Linked DNA regions of Homo sapiens: region 1 is linked to region 2. The links come from fine-mapping of genetic effects on gene expression. A gene starts in region 2. The other region holds a variant in brackets. All regions are shown on one strand. Distances are from middle to middle.

What was found. PIP is the estimated chance that this variant, and not a neighbour inherited with it, causes the effect. A credible set is the group of variants that fine-mapping cannot tell apart.
Region 1: its variant is the best candidate, but not a certain one, in a credible set for the expression of PI4K2A in whole blood (TOPMed, PIP 0.89).

Annotation. Positions count from the first base shown.
Region 1 is chr10:97,529,867-97,532,639 of GRCh38, reverse strand. The region is part of intron 1 of UBTD1 (ubiquitin domain containing 1); the gene reads right to left. Among named protein-coding and RNA genes, the nearest start is that of UBTD1, 32 kb to the right of the region's middle. The variant G/A (reference allele first, on the strand shown) is at 1,741.
Region 2 is chr10:97,639,470-97,642,242 of GRCh38, reverse strand. It overlaps PI4K2A (phosphatidylinositol 4-kinase type 2 alpha), which reads right to left and starts at 1,572. Exons shown (of 9, transcript NM_018425.4): 1 at 1,066-1,572. The coding sequence starts at 1,500. RefSeq lists silencers at 1,253-1,482, 2,647-2,773.

The DNA of each region.
Region 1 (2,773 bases), 110 kb after region 2:
TTTTATACTTTTAATAGAGACGGGGTTTCACCATGTTGGCCAGGATGGTCTCGATCTCTTGACCTTGTGATCCGCCCGCCTCGGCCTCCCAAAGTGCTGGGATTACAGGCGTGAGCCACCGCACTAGCCTCGCCTGGCTAATTTTTTTGTATTTTTAGTAAAGACGGGGTTTCTCCATGTTGGTCAGGCTGGTCTTGAACTCCTGACCTCGGGAGATCCGCCTGCCTCGGCCTCCCAAAGTGCTGGGATTACAGGCATGAGCCACTGCGCCCAGCTCAACAGAGCTTTCGAGGAGAAAAAGAGCTCGCCTTAACTGTGGAACATATACAGGAAGAGACTCAGGAAAGGCTTTGGGAGGAAGATGGCATGAAACAGCAAACAAGTGAACTTACAAATCTCCCTGCAGACAACTCCAACTGCTTGGTTTGCTCCAGGGCCAAGAGATGGCAGACTGAGAGCGCCTTGACCCAAGGTGCTCCCTCCACTGGCTGCTCTCCCGGCCCAGTCAGCCCCCCACTATCTACTCCTTGACTCTCTCACCTTTCTAACCCTCAGTGTCCCACCTGGCTGTCCCTGCCCACCTCCAACTGCCTGCCAGGATGGCCAACTACCCAGCCCCCAGGATCACAATGCCTTGTTGCTGAGTCTTCCTGCTGGTCTTGGCCCCCAGGTCTGTGGTCCCACTCCTCATCACACCACAGGCCAGTTTTTCTATTCTGGGACCCATTTGGAGACTACCTCCTGGTGGTAAATTCTTAGCAAAATCCCATTACACCATGGCCTGTCACATTCCTCATGCTCCGCCCTCACCTGGGGACCTGGAAACCACAGGGGAGACTGTTGTGGGCCTAGGAACTGTTTATCACAGTTTCCAAGGGCACGAGACAGTTTCTCGGAGCACCAGGATGCTGGTGCTCAGAAAGGGCCAGAGGGTCAGGAATGGACCCGATACCTAGAATCGCCCCTGGGGGACTAACCAAAGGCTGAAGCTCAGGGACTGGCTCCATGACCCAGTGATCCCAAGCACAGTCAGGAGTCTCTGGTCCAACCACTTTTCTTATTTTTTACATTTAAAAGATGACATATGTCGGCCGGGCTTGGTGACTCACGCTTGGAATTCCAGCACTTTGAGAGGCTGAGGCAGGCAGATCACTTGAGGTCAGGAGTTTGAGACCTGCCTGGCCAACATGGTGAAACCTCGTCTCTACATAAAGTACAAAAATTAGCTGGGCGGAAACCTCACCTCTACGAAAATACAAAAATTAGCCAGGCGTGGTGGTGCACGCCTGTAATCCCAGCTGCTCAGGAGGCTGAGGCAGGAGGATCACTTGAGCCCAAGAGGTGGAGGTTGCAGCAAGCCGAGATTGTGCCACTGCACTCCAGACTGGGTGACGGCAAGACTCCATCTCAAAAAAAAAAAAAAAGATGGCATATGTTAAATTTAAAAAAAATAGGCTGGGCGCAGTGGCTCATGCCTGTAATCCCAGCACTTTGGGAGGCCAAGGAGGGCGGATCACGAGGTCAGGAGATGGAGACCATCCTGGCTAACAAGGTGAAACCCCGTCTCTACTAAAAGTACAAAAAATTAGTTGGGCGTGGTGGCGGGCACCTGTAGTCCCAGCTACTCCGGAGGCTGAGGCAGGAGAATGGCATGAACCCAGGAGGCAGAGCTTTTAATGAGCCGAGATCGCGCCACTGCACTCCAGCCTGGGCAACAGAGCCAGACTCCGTCTCAAAAAA[G/A]TAAAAAATTTAAAAATTTAAAAAATTTTTAAAATAAAAATTATATAATAAAAACATAAAAAGGAAAAACATAAGTAACCTATATCCTATCACCCCCAAATAACCAGCAATAATATGTTGAGACATTTTCTTTTGTTCCTCTCAATTAGCATTCATATTGCTGAGATCATATGGCATGTACAAGCTTCTACCATTATGATGTCCACGATCCTGTTTTTATTTTAATCTGAAACCAGCTGCTGGACCAGTGGTTCTCAACCCCTGCTGCTTGCCGGATTTACCTGTGCCCCCTCTTCCCTAGGTTCTATCCTTAGAAATCGACTCAGGACATAAAGAAAATATAGAATAAATATAACACTTCAAAAAAATCCTGTTTTTACTTCACACAGAATCATCTAATAAATATTTATTGAGCAAATATGTGCTGAGCACTATAAAGTATGCTTTTGTAAAAATTTTTTTGAGATGGGGTCTCACTCTGTAGCCCAGGCTGGAGTGCAGTGGCGCGACTGTAACTCACTGCAGCCTCAAACTCCTGGGCTCCAGCATTCCCCCTGCCTCAGCCTCCTGAGTCACTGGGATTAAAGGTGTAAGCCACCATGCACAGCTCAGGATGCATTTCTTATAATAAAGAGCTTGCATCATTCTTCATTCATTCATCGATTCATCCATCCATTCATTCATTCATTCATTCATTCAAGAAACATGTATTGAGCTTCTAGTATGCACCAGGCCCCGTGCTGGGGAACACGGACACAAAGTCACTAAGGCTCTCAAGGTCAGAGCTAGTGAGGGAGACAGACATGTCAGGAGATTGTTAGAAACTAATGCACACATGCAAGGGGAGTGATATGCACAGGAATCAGGGGGACACGTGAATGTGGTCTCACCCCCTCTGCGGAAGGTCTTAAAGTTTGCTCCAAGTACCAAAGAACAAGCTGGAGTTAGCCAGGCAAAAGGGCAAGGGGGCTGGGCTCGCCAGACAGAGGAGGCAGTGTGAGCCTACTCTGGGCTCAGGTTTGTGGAGCTGCAA
Region 2 (2,773 bases):
GCCGAACCAAGAGCTACAAGTAACAGCCCGTCCTGGCCACTCAGGACTCCTATTAAAACAGCACCCTGGCCATCTAAAGAGTTCACACAGGAGAGATGTCAGGGAAAATCTGAGGAAACTTTGACACCCATAATTTAAATAACAATACATCTTTCCAATGACCCATTGCAGCACACCTGAAAATTTCCCTGAAACTTCCCTGAAAACAGGGAAGACTTGGTATTTCTTAAATTCTGCAGTTCTCAAAAGGATAAAGGTCACTTCTCAGATACCCTGGTCACTCCATGCCCCATCCTATAACCATCCCCCTTTATATACAGGCAGGGGACAAAATAAAGGTCGGCAAACGCTCTGCCTTAGTTGAAAAGCAGGCTGTTGATAGCCCTGGGAGAGAAATGAAAGAAAAAGTAGCTGATGGCCCCATGTTTCTAAAACTCCAAGTTCTATCTAAACTTTGGAGTCGTCAAAAAGTATTTGAACCCTTTCCCAGAAGTGAGCAATACCCAGGGCAGATGAAACTGGTGAGTCCGCCCATTCTTTCTTCAACGTCTGTTAATAAGAGCTGGGACGGTGGCAGGGGACATCCCCCACAACATAGAAGGCTGGAACTGAATTCTCAGATCCCCTGATAGGTCACCCATCCTCCTCCGTGAACAGCGACACACTGGTTCGGTCGGTCCAAAAAGAGAGAACAGGCCTAAAGCCCCAAATCTGCAAGTCGGCGGCCGAATAGCTGTCCCAGTAGTGTGAAGCTAAGTACCCTACTAGAAAGCAGTCTCTGTCCAGCGGCGGATTGCCCCACCACACCGCTGAGCCCCCGGCCCGTATCTGGTCAATTTCCTCTTTTCATTTTCCGCTCACTCCTCCCCCACCAAGTAGGTTCTGATTTATTTCTCCATTCCGCAGAGCGTCCCCAGCTCCAGTCCTCAGTGGCATCCCTAAATCCTGCCAGGGGCTGGTACTGTGAAGTTTCTCCCTTTTCCCTCTGGCTGTGCGAAGCCCCCAACTCCCCAGGAGCGCCGCCGGCCCTCAGCCCGCGGCGGCGGTCCCCACCCCCGCACTCACCCCCTGAGGGTCCTTGACGAAGTAGCTTCCGCTGGAGCCCTGGTAGATGCGCTCGGGAAAGATGCAGCGCTCGATGGCCAGCTCGGCCTGCCGCACCACCGCCTCGAACTCAGGATCCTCCGGGAACTCGTTCCGCTCGCGGTGGGCCTGAGCGGCGTGGGCTGCCGCCGCGGCCTGAGCGGCCAGAGCCTGGGCCTGCGCCGCCACGGTTTGGGTCTGGCCCTGGGCCGCCGCGCCCCGGGCCCGATCCAACAGTGGCTGCCGCTCGCGGTCGTGGCCCGGCGAGCCCGGCGGAGAGGGGCCCGAGCCGGCCGCCGCCGCCACTCGGACCGCGCCCCCGGGCACCTGCGGAAAGTGAGCGCCCGAGCCCGACGGGAAGGTGTAGTCCGGGGGTTGGGCCCGCTCGGGGGACACTAGTGGGCTCGTCTCGTCCATCCCTCAGACAGCCGGCTCCGGGACCCGGCGCGCTCCACACCACTGCGCTCGCGGCCGCGACCAATCCGTGACATCCCCCAGGCCCCGGCCGGCCAACCAGGTCGCGACGCCTCCTTGGCCCCGCCTCTAACCTGCCCTGTTTACTTGGCTACGAATAGGCACGGCCCCTCGCGCGCGAACAGTAGCCAATCAGAACCTGCTCCTACGCAATCGCTGCCTCCGCATTTTTCTCCCCGTCACCTTCTGTGAAGACTGCGCATGCTCCAGGACCCAACCTTGGGTCAGGCACGCCCCCTGCCCCTACTATACCAGCGCCACGCTTAGCTTCCAATTGGCTTACTGGACTTGGGCGCTTTCAAAACAGCAACTATCCTGTCAGTCACTCATTGAGTGCCTACTCTGAACCGGCTGTGAGATTGGAGGAATCTCATCTATGTATCCTCATTCATTCAGTCAGGCACTCATTCATTTATTGAGCACGTACTATGTTCTAAGTGCTAGGGAGACAGCAGTGAAGCAAAGAAACAAAGCTGCTGCTCTACCTCGATGAAACGTTTTTTTTGGGGCGGGGGGTTTGTTTTTTGGGTTTGTTTTTTTTTTTTTTTTGAGACAGAGTGATCAGTCTCCAAAAAAAAAACGACAGAGGTCAAGTGATCTGCCCACCTCGACCTCCCAAAGTGCTGGGATTACAGGTGTGAGCCACTGCGCTTGGCCTGGAAGTAGGTTTTTAAAGGAAAAGAGGCAGTTCCTAACTTGTTTACCAAGAATTTACATTAAAATAACAAGTTATAGATTGGCTATACATTGTACTTTGTATCCCAAATTCGTATCTCAGTTGACCTAACATACTTCCAATGTAGATGTAACAATGTCAGGTTACACTTCAAGTTCGCAGGAACTTGAAGGTAATGGGTGAAGTAGCCAGTCAGGATAAAATGTCTTAACAATTGCCTCCAGGTTTTCCTAGGAAGCCCTGAAGATTTCTTTTTAAAATATTATTATTATTTTTTTAGAGTTAGGTTATCTCTATGTTGCCTGGGCTGGTCTTGAACTCCTGGCCTCAGGCGATCCTCCTCCCTCAGTCTCCCAGAGTGCTGGGGGATTACAGGTGTGAACCACCCACAGTGCAGCCAAAAAATAAAAAATTTTTAAAAGAAAAAAACCCGCCAGGCACAGTGGCTCACGCCTGTAATCCCAGCACTTTGGGAGGCTGAGGCAGGCGGATCACCTGAGGTCGGGAGTTCAAGACCAGCCTGACCAACATGAAGAAACC